Linked DNA regions of Homo sapiens: region 1 is linked to region 2. The links come from fine-mapping of genetic effects on gene expression. A gene starts in region 2. The other region holds a variant in brackets. All regions are shown on one strand. Distances are between the middles of the regions. Region 1 overlaps DLGAP3 (DLG associated protein 3). Region 2 holds the start of DLGAP3 (DLG associated protein 3).

Region 1 (8,326 bases), 63 kb before region 2:
CCTATGCTTTCATTCCCAACACACATGTGCTTCCATGGCTTTGCCCAGGTTGGTCCCTTGGCCAGAAATGAATTTCTCCCTTCTCTTCCTTGACTACAAAATGCTAATTCATCCTGCAAGATCCAACTCACAAGGCAGAAGGCTTTCCCAGACTGCCTGTGCTATGGTTGTACCCTCCAAAACTTACACTGAAATTTGTCATTGTATTAAGAGGTGGGACCTTTAAGAGGTTATTAGGCCATGAGGGCTGCACTCTCATGGGTGGATTGACACCCTTATAAAAGGGCAAGTTCAACTCCCTCTTGCCCTCTCTTGCCCTCTCACCTGCCATGGGATGACACAGCAAGAAGGCCCTCACAAGTTGCCAGCCCCTTGACACTGAATTCCCCAGCACCCAGAACTGTGAGCCAATAAATACCTGTTCATTATAAGTTATCCAGTCTGTGGTATTGTTATAGCAGCACAAAATGGACTAAAACACCCTGGTTGCTAGAGGCTCTCTCCTCTCAATCCCTTGGCCCCTCTGGGAGAACAGGTTTCCCTTTGCACCATAACTTTCTGTTTATATGCTGGCCATGGCCAGACTGTAAGCAACTCAAGCAAAAGGACTGGACCTAATCTTTCACTATCTATGGGGCTCAGCATAACTACCTAGGCCACAAGAACCAAAGGAGACTCATCCACACCAGACATGGAAAACTCTATGAATAAAGTCATAGACCCATAAAATGCTGTATAAATGTAAAGGTTAAACTCAGACTCAGCCACTTCCTGGCTTCATGGTTTGAGGTAAGCTGTTTAAACCTCTCCAAGCCCATTTCCTCATCTGTAAATGGGGGTGAAAACAATATCTGTTTTACAGCATTGCTCTGAGTTCAAACCTCACCCATGCCCCCAATTTTAGAGATGATAAAACAACCTCAGAGAGGTAAACTGACCCAGCCCTTCTACTGGAGACCTTTGGACAGTCATCCAATTTAAGTCTTCCCAAAGCTGGCTGCTCAGAATCTTGTGAAGCACTTGTTAAAACCTTATTCGAGGGCAGAGTCTATTCACTAAGTCTTGGACCAGGCCCAGGAGTCTGTATGGGATCACCTCCAAACGGACTGCTTTTGGGAATTCAGATCACATTAGAGTTCTCCTCACCTTCCAGGCTCATGTGTGTACGTGGACCATCTCTTGCTTTTCCAAAGTTGTCTACCAAACCAGTCTATAAAACGTTCATGCCACTCCTCTGTTCAAAACCCTTCTATGGCTCCCTACAGCCCACAAGACCCAGGCCACCTGCCTCAATGAGACCCAAACACTGATATAATCAAGTCTCTGTGCTCCCAATGTCTCTTCCTCTTCCAAGCCTTTGCACAGCTGTTCCCTGATCTTGGAACATTCTTCCCAGCCCTGGCCCTCCTTCAGCAGCTAATCTCTAATCATCTTTCTGGCACTTACTCCTGTATTTTAACTGCTTGCTTATTTGTCTGTTTTTCCCATATGACCATAAGTTCCATTAAGGGTAGAAACTACATCTTGTTCAGGGCTATTCCTGTGGCGCCCAAAAGTGATAAATGTCTGCTGGATAAATGAATGAGAAGAATTAGCTGACCCAGTGTGGCCCAGAAAAGCAGCCAATCCTGAAGGCTTTTCCTCCTGCCTGGAGGTGACACACCAACCCAAAGGACTGCTCAAGGAGTGGAAAGGGGCTTTCTGGGTGGAGACTGCCATCAGCCCTCTCTGGTCTAAGAAGCCTGCAAAGCTAAAAGCTCATGATTTGGCATTAGACCTGGGTCCACCACATTTAGTCCTGTGACCTCAGACAGGTCTTGTAACCTGCCCTGAGCTTTGGCTTTCTCTTCTATTGTAAGGACCAGCCACATTCATGTAAAGCACTCACCCCTTGCCTGACCCACACTGACCACTCAATAAAGCCATCGATACTAGGTTCTGGTTGCCATTTAGCTTCCCAGGAGAGCTCTGTTCTTTGTACTTCCTCTTCCCCCACCCCAGCCTCCACCAAGGTGGCCACCCATAGGAGGCATCAGAAAATGCGGCAGGACTGAAGATTTTCTGCTGCTGATCAGGAATGACTGGAGCAGAAGGAACATTGTGCCCCTAGGGGAAGGGAAACCAATTATTTGTCAATACCTAACAATAACCACACTCCCGGTTTATTGAGCACATGCTGCGTGCCCGGCGAGCTCCGGACTTCCCTCTCTGGGGGAACCCTGCGGACTGGGAGGCAGAACGGGATACACCGAAATAGGAAGAACGGAGAGCTTGGCACCCTCCCCCTCTTCACCCCACCTGGGCCCCTCCAGGAGGGTCCAGGCCCTTACTGTGGGCATCAGGGGGCCGAATCTCCTTTCCACCAGCTGGCCCATCCCTGGAAGGAGCTCAGGCAACCCCTGCTATCTCCAAACCAAGAGAGTGGGCTCCCGGTCCCTTCTCCCTTCACCCCCGTCCTCCCACACACGGGACGGAGGTGGCCTCTTCTGGAGAGAGCAGCTGGCTCGAGTGCAGTTCTGCCGTTTTATTTTTCCTGGGATATTCAAGGGGATGTGGGAACAGCCACAGGTGTGGTGAGGGGAAGCCCCCATCTCCCCTCCCCAGCCGCTGGGAAAGGGGAGAGGCCCAGGCGCCCTGGTCCTGGGTTGGTCCAGCCACTGTGGTCCCTGGGCCCAGTGGGCAGAGGGCTGAGGATGGAGCCCCTGGGAGGGTGGGGCGGGCTCCTAGGCAGGGTTCGGGATTCTTCATAAAAAGCCACGAAGCTTGATCCCCACGAAGCCCAGCCCCGCGGGGTGGGGGAGGGGGGGACGCAGAGCCCAGATGAGGGACCCGGCCCGGCCTGGCCCGTGGGGGAAAGAATGGCAGAGATGGTGCCCATGGGGAGGAGGTGGGGACAAAGCGTCGGACCAGGTGGGCAGGGGATCCAGGTGAGGGGCGCAGGGCGGAGAGGCACGGCCCCCTGCCCAGCCCGGGCGCCTTCGCGTGGGATCAGGAAGGTAAAAAACCCACGAGAGTGTGACGGGCCCGGGGGCCGGGGCGTCCGGTGCCGGTGGGGCGGGCGCACGGGGCGGCCCGCGTTCACAGTGACCTCGACGCTGGGTGTACAGTACGGGTGGAGAACCGCGGGCCCGGGCCGGGCTGGGCGGGCCGGACCGGTCACAGCCTGGTCTGGGCCTCGGGGATGTAGATCTCGATGCTGTCGGCGCTCTCGGTGGCCGAGCTGTGGCGGAAGGAAGCGGCGCGCTTGGCCGCCAGGAGCCGCTTGCGCGCTTCCTGCCGCTGCCGGTCCACGGAGTCCAGGGAGCGCTCCTTCACCGGCACGCCCCGGCCCCGCAGGGGCTTCTTTGGTATCGGCGGAGGGACCTTCTTCTCCTCCTGCGGGGCAGAGGGCGTCGCTGAGCTGGGGCGCCGAACCATCCCAACACCCAGGTGTCCGCCCCCGCACCCCCGCGCCCAGAGTGCTGACGACCGCGTGGCTCCGAACGCGATGGCGCTCAGAATCCGCCACGGATCCCGTGACCTGAAGCCCCAGGTGCTCCTGTTCCGACAAGGTCAAATCCCCACATTTTCCACCAAAGCGCGGCGCGTTCGAGCGCCCCCTGGTGGCGCCGTTCTCAACAGCTCGCAGCAGAGCCGGTTTTTCACTCCGGGTCCCGACCCGAAGGAGGGAGTTCCCGACCCAGGCTCCGCAATGAGGGTGCACATACCAGGCCTCTGGCCCTCATCGCAGACAAGGTCCAGGGACCTGGCGGCTGAGGGGACCCTCAAGGCTCTGCCGTCGATGCCTAGGCCCGAACTGAGGACAGTCTGTCCTTCCGTAAGGTCTACTTTTGCTCTCTCCAGCTGCAGCCGCCGCCACCCCCCCAACCCCGCTCCCCCGCGCTGAGGAAGCCTTGGGGTTCTGGCAGCTCAAGCAGTGATGAGCACTGGGGCCAAGCAGACGGCAGTGGCCACGAGCGTGGTCACTCTGGAAGGGGATGGTCACCTATCACCTGTCCAAGGCTGCCCTTGCTGCCCATGGATCCCTTCCCCTGCCCCCTTGTTCGTCCCACCCTCCACCTCTCTGGGGAGGGGAATTTCCCAGAGTCTGGCCTCTTTGCCTGAAGGCACCCCAGCCCCACCTTAGGCTCCAGGAGTTTCCAGCTGTTGGCCTTGAGTTGCTGTAGCTCCAGGAACTTGAGGGTCACATCCTCGATGGAGAGCTGTAGGAGGTCCCAGAAACCCGCCAGGTCCTGGAAGGTGGGCACAGGGAACGCAGTGGGATCCTGCAACAGAGGAAGATGGAGGGAAAGTGATTGGTCAAGGAGGTCTGAGCCCCAGCCAGGACAAGAGAAAGTCCTATCCACCCTTACTGCCAGGAAGCTCAGCCTGGGAGAGTGGGTGGGGGCTGGGAGACAGGGGGACAAGAGCGAGCCCAGGACTCCCCTTCTTGTGCACAAACACCTGGTCCTACCTCCAGGCACAAGACTCACAGCTACCCCAGAAGGCATGCAGGCCTGGTCTCACCTCTGGTACACACTCACTCTGGGTCACCTGCCTGTCTCACCTCCAGCACACACACACTCTGGGTCACATGTATCTGGTAGGATCTACTACTATGGGCACTCACCATGCTTTGCTGACACAGCCGGAAGAACTGCTGAACCTTCTGGGACAGGAGAAGTTGTGTGCTGCCCACAGCACTGCGGATCTTCTCCAGGACTAGAAAGCAGAAGGAAATTCAGGGA[G/C]GGAAATGATGCATCTCCTTCCCCAGCCTCCACGAAGTCTGCCCTGAATGACGCTGACCCCTCGGTTGCTTGGCACTGTGTATCCATCAGTCTCCTCCAGCCCCAGCCCCATCCCATCCTCAAGTTCCTAACAAGTTCTCGCTCCACTACACCAAGACTGTATCCTCAGACACTGATGTTCCCTCCTTCATACAGCCTACATTTCTTGAGTGCTCATCCTTCTTTATCCTTTCTCCCTCCCGTATCAGAGAACAGACGGAAACCAGCCCCAGCCTAGCCCTATAGCCTTGGCCAGGGCATTAGCTCAATGACCACCCACTGGCTAAGCTTTGTTCATCACTCCCCAGTGCATGCAAGACTCCTTGGCTCTTTAAGAATGACCAAGTAATTTCATGTACATAACACATCTTCATAGCCACTGTCCCCTCAACTCAGAGATTCTGGGGTAAGACTGTGTCTCCCAGTGGATCTGACTTACAGGAAGGGCCATGCTCTCCCTCGGGCCAGGGCCACATCTCCCTGGCTGAATCTCCCTCTTCTGTGCCTCAGACAGGATCTGACATTGTGAACTGCCTCCCTCTCTGTAATCTTGGTCGCACCACCTGGATCCCCACACCAGTCCAGATCTGAACGGAGTTCCCTTAGTCCCCATAAACTTGGTGATTTGGACTAGCAGCCATCCATAGAAGGCCCAGCCCTTTGGCCTGCAGTGTCTGCAGTCCCAGCCCTGGCCTCTAAAGCTGCACCATGTGCACCCTGCTCCCTTTCAAGAGCTCCCAGCATGTCTTGCTGCCGATGTTGACCCGCCACGCTCCAGTGCAGAAGACCAGTGAGGCACCAACCGAAGGGGCCTCCTGTTACACTGCAGCCCCAGCCACCCCCATCAGGGTCTCCTGAGCACACACGAGGCCATGGTCCCCAGAGTCCCCTTGTTCCGATGCCGTGACTCACTCTCCTCGGGTAGCTCATAGTCCTCCGCCTCACGCTCCATCTGCTGGCACCAGTGCTCCAGCTTCTCCACCTCTGCCCGCAGCATCTTGATGAACCACTCGCCGTCGCGTGGGCAGGGGGATGCGCGGCCTGAGTCGGGGAGGCTACGTGAACCGCGCTCTATCCAGGAGTCACGGCGGCCGGCCCCAGGGCCGGGGGTGGGGGCGGGGGCAGGGCCGGGCGACCCATCGGTGGCCGGCGGCTCGTACGGCAGTGGGTAGCCCTCGCGGTAGGCCCACTGGCCCTGCGTGTGGACCGTGCGGAAGACTGAGTAGGTGGGGGCCCGGGGCCCAGGCTGGGGCTCAGAGGCGTGCCTCTGGAAGGAGCGTCCAAACTGCAGGGCCTTGTCTTCTGTGGCCACCGTGGCCAGGCCTGCCAGGCCCTCCAGCTCCAGGTCTGCCTGCACGCCAGCCGTCACACTATTGGAGCGCTTGAACCTTGCTCGCCTGGGGAGAGGGGTGGCTGTCATCCCCCATTGCCCAGGCTCATGCCAGCTCTCACCCCCACCCCAAGCAAAAAAAAGGAAGGGAATGAGAAAGGGAACCTACAAAGTGATGGACATTAACCTATGCACTTTAAATATATTGGTCCTTGCAACAGCTACGTACATAATATACCTACCTATTGCACTGCCTCTAGATAGGGGTGATATCCAAGCTATTTAGCAACCAGTTCAGTCCATGGACAGAGCAGATGCTGGCATATACCAGGCAGAGCAGGCACAGACCAAAATGCTGCAGCAGTGCCCTGGAGAGGCTAGATTGTGGGGTGGGCTAGAGGGGTCAGGGAGGAGCCAGGGTGGTGGCTCTTTACCAGTGAAGGCAGAAGATATTTCAATTTTTTTTTTTTTTTTTTTTTTTTTGGAGATGGAGTTTTGCTCTTGTTGCCCAGGCTGGAGTGCAATGGCGCGATCTCGGCTCACCGCAACCTCCGCCTCCCGGGTTCAAGCGATTCTCCTGCTTCAGCCTCCCGAGTAACTGGGATTACAGGCATGCGCCTTTTGTCTCTTTTTGGAAGAGACAGGGTTTCTCCATGTTGGTCAGGCTGGTCTCGAACTCCCGACCTCAGGTTATCCACCCGCCTTGGCCTCCCAACGTGCTGGGATTACAGGTGTGAGCCACCACGCCTGGCCGAAGTATTTCAATATTTTAACAAATTCTATGTCTATGCTAGTTTACACCAGCTGCACTAGAGTGTCCTCAGCTCTACCTAGAGATGAGTAAACTAAGTAAACCCAGCTTCAAAGTAGCAGAGCCAGGATTTGGACTCAGCGCTGCTGGGCTCCACAGTCCAAGCACTTCCCACTGCACCAGCTGCTAGAACATCACAGGAAGAAATGCCTTGGAGCAGCTGGAGGTGGAGTGGGCCTGCAGCTGGGAGGACTTCTCTAGGGACCCCGATGGCTCAGCCCAGAGCCTGGCCAGACACAGTAAGTCAGTGCCAGTGGAGCTGAATTAAGTTGTTTGCAGGAATGACATAGGGCCTGGAAATTTCTTGTCTTTGAGTTAATAATATGCAAATCTTATGCAAACCAAAAAGTCAACTGGCCGTTTTCATTTTTTCCCTGAATTCAGAGTTCTTTTCTATAAAGAAGTCAGTGGCCGCTTAAGATGCATGAGGTTGGGACCAGGCAATACTTTAAGAAGTGGGAGTCAGGAGATGTGGGAGGTGGGGGATAAACAGAAGATCAAGGTTTGGAAATTCAAGGACCACAAAAGAAAAGCCTGTGTGTCCTGAGCTACCTCCACCCCTACATGGTCAGAAGGGATTGTGGGCCCAGCTCTAGGGTCCCTCCACCTCCCCAAGAGACTCTCCCAACCCCCGCAACTTCAGCCTTTCTCTTGCTGCCCAGGCCTTCTCTCCCTGCCTGCCTGCCTACTTCTCTCCAGCTGGCAGGCTGCCTGCTGGGAGCCTGTTGCCATAGAAACCAGGCCCAGAAGGATGCTGCAGGACCCAGGAAGGAGAGATGCACTCATGTGCAGTCTCCAACGAGCCCTATGTCCCAACCCCCACCCAGAGAGGGAGAAGGAGAGAGAACATATCCTCATTGCCTCCCACACAGTCTTCCCCTCAGTGTCTGCCCTGTCCTGCCCTGGTCAAGGTTTGCATCACCATCTGCCCTGATGATTAGACTGGCCTCCTTTCAGATACCTCTGCCTCCATCAGTACCCTGCAGAGGAAGAGCACGGGGCCAGGAGTTAGCTCTGAGTTCTAATGCTGGCTTTCTCACTGTGTGCCTTTGTCACTCACCCTCCATCTAGGTCATCCAATGTGTATGTGTGTATGTATTTAAAATATATGTATTAGATATAAATATACACACATATACATCTAAAAATACACACATATATACAATTATAGAAATAGATAAGTAATTGCCAAGGTAGTTCCTCTCTCTAAAATTATATTTTGCATATTTTAAGATCTGGGGCCCTCCCCAGTCCACCCAAGACTGGAATAGTCTTCCTAAAGCTGAGCTCTGCCAAGTCATTCCCCTGCTCAAAACCCTTCCACAGCCCCCTACTACCAACAAGACAAAGTTCAGACTTCCTGTACCAGCATTATCTGAGGCCCTGATGTCCTGGACACAGTCCTCCTCTTCAACCTCA
Region 2 (8,326 bases):
TGCATGGAGCCCAGGGGCCTGACAAGTTATTAGCAATGATGAGCTGGCACCTCGTTACCATAACGATGGTGCCACTGCCTCACCCCAGCTCAAACCCAGACTCCCCAGACGGCAGGAGGCCCGCTGAGCCAGCAGCCTTCAGACTGGGGAGGGGCAGGGTGGATAAAGAGGAAATCAAGACATAATGCTTGCATAGTGGAGGGTACGCAGCTGTTCTTCCAACCCCCACTGAGTGACAAAGCTTTGACTCTACCAAGTGGGAATGAAATCAGAATCTGGGAAGGTTTCCTGACCGTGGGGATGGTAAGACCAGAAGGGGTCTTTGGAAGCTCCTCTAGGCAAAAGTTTTTGTCATCATTTGCTCCCTTCATCACCTCACCCCCAAAAAACTAAAAAACAACCAAATACGGGGCCCCTTGCTGAATTTCAGTCTCCCCACCTGTAAAATGGGGGTAATCCCTTTATCATTTGTCCTAGACTCCTGGAAGATTTCATTAGAAAGGGTTTGGGGGTAACTACAGACCCTTCCTAAATCAGACAAGCCCCAGAAGTTTCTCTATTCATTAGGAACCCAATAAGGTAAGGAATGGTCTATCCAGCTAGAGGCAAAATGCACTGGAAACTGGGGAGGATGAAGGAAAACAAGCTTAGCCAGCTCGAGCCCCAACATCAGCTGGAAGAGATGATGTTAGGTGTCAGGCAGCCGCTGAAAGCAGGTACTAACATGAGAAAGTCTGGGAGTCTGGCCTGTAGCAGCTCCAGCCCCTCACCAGCAGGAATCAAGACAAGACAAGCCCATGGCCTACCTCGGTGGTGGGTGTGGCTAGGAATCCCTATCCCCAGCGACATCTGTAGCGCCCTCTCTTTGGCAAGGAGTCCCAAGCTGAAAGATGTACAGCCTTAGGCTTTTTGAGTCTTCATTTCTTTTCCAAAAATCCCCTGTACTCAGCTCTGATGGGGGTGGGGAGAGTTCAGGAATAGAAGGCAACATGGAGGATTGCAAAGTTCCTCGTCTAAGATTAGCCTAGGAACTCACAAATTCGTTGTGTGACCTTGGGCAAGTCCCCTCCCTTCTTGGGGCTTCAGAGTCCCCGGTTTGTAATGAAGAGGTTGGACCAAGTCAATACTAAGGTTCCTCTCCTGGCCATCATTCTACAGCTACATACAAGCTCACTCGTTGGATGTGAGCCCCCTGGCACAAAACTCAGCGGGCCCTGCCTGCCAGATCAGTGGGGCAGTGGCGGGTGGGAGATGCGGGGGCTGTATGTGAGGCCGTTCATCCTATGTTCATGTTCCTTTTAGAAACACCTGCCACCCTAGCCCTCCCAGCTCCCTTTTTAGACCCTGATTCACTGCCAACTCACGAAGCCTCTCCCTCCCCTCCCTCCTCTCTTCTCCCCCCACCCCCCACTCTTTTAGGCATTGGCAGCTGGGTGCAGAAGTAGCCCCAGCATTCAGGGAATGCTGCGCAGTGGTAGAGGGCAGTGCCCCCAGGGTCAGAGAGAGCACACCAGGAAGTACCACTCTCTAACCTTGGCCCAGCCCAGTTCTTTGGGTCACTGAAAGACCTGGGCTGAGGTCTTTCTGTACCACTAACTAGCAGTGTGTGGTTGTGGAAAATGCAATTCATTTCTCAAGCCTCAACATCTTCATCTGTAAATCGGCATTATATTTGGTTGAACCATATGAAATTGCTGTTTTTGTAGGTTAAATAAAAACAGTTGAATATTGCAGTTGCATATGGCTTAACGTGATACCTGTCCTGCCTGCTTCCCAAGGCTGTTGGGGAAATAAGAAGAGTTCAGAGGGCAGCATTTTCAAAAGCCCTGAACTAATATGAGGGCATTATTTTATTATTATTACTTCAAAGAGCTTAGTACAGACCCACCCGGAGCCAGTGGACTGAACCAATAACCCAGAACTTGAAGGTTTGGGACTTGGAAGTCTGGGAGAGCGCCACCTGCTCTGATGACTAACAGGGCAGACGCTTCCACCTGGCCTCCTCATCTCCTAGCTCTAAAAGGCCCTTGGTGAAACATTATTGAGATGACACAAGTTCCCAGGCCCCCAAAAGGAGAAGCAGCACACGCAGGCACATACTCCAGCTCGCCCCAGATCCCCCCTCCCACCCACCAGGGGCCTTAGCATGCAGGAAGGACACGACCAGCAACATCCCAGAGGGCACCCCCTGAGGTAGGTGAAGGTAGAGACCAAGCTGGGGAGTGCCACAAAGCTCTTGCCTGAATCAAGGGTCAGGGGTCCCCAGAGAAGTGGGGAATGATCTGACCTCGGAAAAGTCTCATCTCCCTGTCCCATATCCCACCAGGAATGGGGGGACAGTGGGGGGGACAGAGCCCAGGTGTGGGTGATTCAGAGTGAACCGCGCTCAGATACACTCTCTCTCACACAGCCAACGCACGCGCGCGCACACGCACACACACACACACACAGTCACACAGGGCAGATACCGGGACCCACTCACAGAGACAGTCACGCCGGCACACACATCCATTCACACACTCACAGACACACACAGGCACACATGGGGACAACACACACTCATTCACTCACATGTCCACAGATGCATACACAGTACCACCCTCCACACTCACGCTGCATACACCCACTAACATGCACACACACTCTCGCCCACAGTGACACACGCACACACTCACGGCATACACTCACCGGCACACACAATCGCCCACAGACCCACACAGTGACACACTCGGCACAGACACACAGCGACACGCACTCACATTCACACACCTGCAGAGGAAACTTCTCTCCGGATCTCCCCAGCACCACGACTTCCCCCACAACCAGCTGGCTACTCCCTCCCAGACCCGAGCCTCCAGCCGGGCGAGGGCTGGGCCGGGGCTGGCCTGTCCCCGCGGCCCTGACCGGGAGCGTGGGTCCGCGGTCCGCGTGGTCCCCTGCCCGCCCCTCGGGTCGGGCCCGCGGGCAGCCAGGCCGGGGCAGGAGCGGGGGCAGCTGAGGAGGCCCAGCCCCTCCCCCCTCCCGGGGCCGGGAGCCGAGCGCCGGAGCCCGGGGCGTGGGCGGCGCCGGGGCCGCAGCCGGGCCGTGCCTGGGGGGCGCTGCAGAGGGAGCCGCGAGCGCGGCCCCGTCCCCACTCCTCCCCGCGGCTTACCTGGCCCGGCTCGGGCTCCGGCCGGGTTACATGGTGCCGGCGGCCCGGGCCGGGGGCGCTGCGGCGTTGGGCAGGCGGGCAGGGACCGGGGCCCGGCACTGCGGAGCCCCCAGCTGAGGGGCCGCGCCGGCTGCGGAGCCCCAAGCGAGCGCCGAGCGGCAGCGGGCGCGGGAGCGGGAGGCGGCCAAGCCACGGAGGCTGGATTTCCCGGGGACCGGGAAGGGGAGGCGGGGGGATCCCGCCCGCGCGCTCCGCCCCCGCCCCCGCCCCCGCGCAGGGCAGCCGAGCAGGGAGAGGGAGAGGGAGAGGAAGAGGGAGGGGGACCGAGCTCCCCGCCCCCGCGCGGACCCAGGAGGGCCGAGGTCGCCGCCCGCGGGCGGCCGCCGGGGTCCCGGAGGAGCGCCCACCTCGCTGAGCGACGGTGCTGGGGGCGCCCAGCGTAGGGGCAGGAATGAGATCCCCCTCCCCGGGGACCCAGGAACAGGCACCCGAAGTGTCACGGCCACGCACAGCCGACCTGGGTACAGGGACCCAAGCCCGGCGGCGGGCGGGCGGTCGGGGACCAGCTCAGCCTCACGGACCGGGTCTCGCCCCCCGCCGAGGGGCAGTCACGCCCTGAATGTCACACACAGCCCCCAGGCCCGTCCGCTTAGGAGACTCTCCTTCGGGCTTTCCCGGTCGGCCGCCTGACCTCAGCTCCTGGCTTGGGGTCAGGGAGCCCCCCTCTTCGGCCCCAGCCCCTGCCAGGATGGGGCGCTGTGCCCGGCCTCGGAGCCGCTGGCAGGCGTCCCCCACCCACAGTCCGCACAGCCGAGGCATCCCCAGTGTGGAGGGAGAGCCCCGCTGTACCTGCCGCCTGTGCTGGGCCCCCGCCCGTGCCCACTGTGCCCGCCCGCCTCTGGGCCCTGAGCCTGGGATTGTGCCATGGCGGGGTCGGGGTGGGGGGAAAGGGACTGTCCGAAGCACAGCTGGAGGCTGCGGAGCCCGGACACAGGCTGCGGGAGCCGAGAGGCGGAGAGCGGACTGCAGCAGTCCCCTGGCTTGAATCCGTCTTGGCGCCCAGAGCGATGCTGTAATGGGGGGGAGGGGGCCACGGTGGGGAAGCCGCAGGGGGAGGGGCTGAAGACGTGGGGGAAGGGGTGGCTCCGGATTCCGGCTTTCCAGGGTAGGTGTGAGGAAACACTGCCTCCGGCGCTGAAAGTTGGGGGTGGAGGTTCAGTGGGCATCCTTAAAGCCCTCTTCCCTCCTCTACCTTTTCCGGTCTTGAAAGCTTGGGATGGTGAGGTGTGGGCTTGGGAGGCTTGAGACTGCCCACCTCTCTAGGAACATACCTTGGAGTTGTTCTGATTCAACGGCCCCCACCCCGCACCCCAACAACTCCCTGCTCTCTGTTTCCTTGTGGGGCCACCGGCTCTCCTCCCTGTATAAAGGGGAAAGTGAGGCACGGAAAGGAGAAGCCAAAGGCCCAGAAGAGCTAGAACTGGGAGCCAAGACCTCTTTTCCCCAGGGAGATGATGTTTTAAGATGCCACATTACATTAAATAACATAAGGGGCTTGGAGAGCCCTCTTCCCAAGGGATACCTAGAAGTCTGGTAAGAGACTAGTAGATTGGTCACCTACCCTGCTGCTCACAAGAACGGTTCATTGTCTCTTCAATCATGAAGTGAGGTTGCAGACCATTTCCAGCCCAGGGTTCAGTCAAGAGCAGATGTCATGAAAATAAGAAAGTTGTTCCCAGGAACCCACTTTAGAACTGAAGGAAACATCTCACTTTCCGTGGAGCATAAGAACAGCCGTTGGGCCGAGCGCAGTGGCTCATGCTTATAATCCTAGCACTTTGGGAGGCCAAGGCGGGTGGATTACCTGAGGTCAGGAGTTCAACACCAGCCTGGCCAACATGGTAAAATCCCGTCTCTACTAAAATTACAAAAAATTAGCCGAGTGCAGTGGCACGTGCCTGTAATCCCAGCTACTCAGGAGGCTGAGGCAGGAGAATTGCTTGAACCCGGGAGGCACAGGTTGCAGTGAGCTGAGACTGTGCCACACTGCAGCCTGGGCAACAGAGCCAGATTCAGTCTTAAAGAAAAAAAAAAAAAAGGATGAGCTGACGGCCGGGCACAGTGGCTCACGCCTGTAATCCCAGCACTTTGGGAGGCTAAGGCAGACGGATCACCTGAGGTCGGGAGTTCGAGATCAGCCTGGCCAACATGGTGAAACCCTGTCTCTACCCGAAATACAAAAATTAGCCCGGTGTGGTGTTGGGCGCCTGTAATCCCAGCTACTCAGAGGCTGAGGCAGGCGAATCACTTGAATCCGGGAGGCAGAGGTTGCAGTGAGCAGAGATTGCACCATTGCACTCCTGCCTGGAACTCCGTCTCAAAAAAAAAAAAAAAAAAAAAAAGAACAGCCGTGATAGAGGATGTTAAAAAGCACCACCGTGTTTTCGCAGTTCTAAGACCTGTATTTTGTAAACTATTCTGAAACTGGAAAGCATCTTACAATAAACAGGGACATTTAATATGGCTCTTCTTACCTTTCTGTTAAAGCTATTAGAGTTGGTGCATTTTAGAATTGAGAACATAATGTTATTTTCATTTGTTCATTCAACAACCCTTTACTGATTATACCTGGCACCTTGCTAGCCTCTTGGGGGCATACAGGTTAATCAGACAGGCTTACCTTAGACAGTGTTCTCCCATAGCCATCCAGTGATTAATAACTGATTAATAAGGGAGATGGAGATGTAAACCAATAATTACTATCAGGGCCAGCTTCATGGGAGTGTGACCTGTGCAGTCGTACAGAGCCCCACATGTAGAAAGGCATCACTCTTGGTAGAATATTCTGCTGTCACTGTCTTAAAATTGTTAATAATTTTTGGACAAGGGGCTCACCCTGGGCCTAGCTCTGCCTAGGTGAAGAGGACAGTCAAAGAAGCACAAAAAGCTGGGCGCGGTGGCTCACGCCTGTAATCCCAGCACTTTGGGAGGCCAAGGCAGGCAGATCATGAGGTCAGGAGATCGAGACCATCCTGGCAAACACAGTGAAACCTCGTCTCTACTAAAAGTACAAAAACAAAATTAGCTGGGCATGGTGGCGGGCATCTGTAGTCCCAGCTACTCGGGAGGCTGAGGCAGGAGAATGGCATGAACCCAGGAGGTGGAGCTTGCAGTGAGCAGAGATCACGCCACTGCACTCCAGCCTGGACGACAGAGCAAGACTCCATCTCAAAAAAAAAAAAAAGAAGCACAAAAGAAGCATTTGAATGGAGTCTCAAAGATTGGGAGAGAGACTTTCAGGTAGAGAGTCACATGTGCAAAGACAGAGACTCAGTGTCAATCAGTATGACAGTTGCCTTAGTTGATCTTCCCACTGAAAGCATGATAAATAGCAAAAAAAAAAAAAAAAGATAAAATATTTTTATTAAAACACAATAAAGAAGAGAATATATATGTATAACTATGTACATTTTTAATATTCTTAAATGTATCAATGTGCTGGCAAGAAAATAAGAATCACTCCAGCCAAAATCTAGGTAAAGGCAGAACCAGAGAAGTAAGCAGAGCACTGAAGCCAACTTTAGCCTTGGGGGCTGTGAAAGATGTGTTGCAAAAAGGGCACCAATTCTCTACCTCCACCCGAATCCATCTCCTTTGCCCTGTGACTTTGCAACTCCCTGCATCAACAGGTGGACTCTTTGGAACAAGGATCTCTGAGGAGAAAAAAAAAAAAAAAGAGGCAGACCCTACTTTCCCACCCCTTAAATCTGAGTGGACTTGTAACTTGCTTTCGCCAATGGAATCTGGAAGAAGTCATGTAGTGCCAGTTCTGAGCTTAGGCCTTCAGAGACATGAATACTTCTACTATTTCTCTTGGTCTCCTGCCTTCACTATAAGAACAAGCCTCAAGCCTGAGACAGCTGGAGGATGAGTGACAAGGTGGAAGAGAGCTATACCATCCCAACTGTCCCAGCCAAGATCATCATGGACCCGCCTATAGCCAGCAGATCTCCAAACATGTGAGAGAGCCCAGGCAAGAGCAGCAGAGATATCTACCTGTCCACAGCTGACTGCAGACACATTAGTGAGACCAGCTGAATGAGAAGAACTGTCGAGCCAATTTGAAGACTCTTGAGCAATAATGAATGCTTATTAATTTAAGCTACTGAGCTTTGGTATGGTATGGTATTATGCCGCAATATTATGGCATTTAATAACTAATACAGGGTCATTTGCTGACAGATGAAATTTAACTTCAGTTTTCATGATCTCTCAGGGCACCAGAGATAAAAGATAAAACCCGAGTCTGCCCAAGATGGTCACATACTCCCCTGCATAAGCTTAGAACCCCAAAGGGCTGTACTCTCAATGTACAGGAGAGCTAGAAAAAACCTCATCCCCAAACCTAGGAAATTGTAAGAAAATTGCAAGCTTTAAACCTTGGCAGTAGTAATGAGTGTAGGAAGGAAGAATCACCTCCTGAGTATCCATTACTACGAGTTAAATTTCACATCACATGCAGTCAGATCCACTCTACCTAAAGGATCTGGAAAAACTCAAGCCAAGAATTTGGTATAAAATGTACCAGATTGGTAGTGCCTCAGGTGCCCAGCAGAAGCAAATGTAAATCTTTGTCTCAGGCCTCAAATAATTTCCACAGATAAAATTCCAAAGAAAATGAATAACTCACAGTTAAATGTCTGTCACTGAACACACAAGGAAACATGGCACTGTAAATAAGAAACAATGTGATTGTTCATTTTTATGTGTCAACTTGACTGGGTTAAGGGATACTCAGATAGCTGGTAAAACATTATTTCTCGATATGTCTGTGAGGGTGTTACCAGAAGATATCAGCATTTGAATCAGTAAACTGAGTACAGATCTGACCTCATCAGTGTAAGCAGGCATCATCCAATCTATTGAGGTCCCAAATAGAGCAAAAAAGGCAGAGCAAGGCAAAGTTGCTTTCTTCTTGAGCTGGGACATCCATCTTCTCCAGCCCTCGGACATCAGAGCTCCTGGTTCTCAAGCCTTCAGGCTCAAACTGAGAGTTATACCATTGTCTGCCTCAATTCTCAGGCCTTTGGGCTCAGGCTGAATTACACCACTGGCTTTCCTGGTTTTCCAGCTTTCAGACAGTGTATCGTGGGACTTCTTGGCCTTCATAATTGT

The links. PIP is the estimated chance that this variant, and not a neighbour inherited with it, causes the effect.
Region 1: its variant is fine-mapped to the expression of DLGAP3 in blood mononuclear cells (TOPMed, PIP above 0.99). The same link has a PIP of 0.9 or more in whole blood.

Annotation. Positions count from the first base shown.
Region 1 is chr1:34,862,927-34,871,252 of GRCh38, forward strand. DLGAP3 (DLG associated protein 3) reads right to left here. Exons shown (of 12, transcript NM_001080418.3): 9 at 5,679-6,163; 10 at 4,610-4,701; 11 at 4,122-4,265; 12 at 2,510-3,375. The coding sequence ends at 3,157. Among named protein-coding and RNA genes, the nearest start is that of SMIM12, 7.3 kb to the left of the region's middle. RefSeq lists a silencer at 2,999-3,048 and enhancers at 3,209-3,288, 3,339-3,438, 3,489-3,618. The variant G/C (reference allele first, on the strand shown) is at 4,728.
Region 2 is chr1:34,926,300-34,934,625 of GRCh38, forward strand. It overlaps DLGAP3 (DLG associated protein 3), which reads right to left and starts at 3,351. Exons shown (of 12, transcript NM_001080418.3): 1 at 3,152-3,351. RefSeq lists silencers at 2,860-2,929, 3,910-3,959.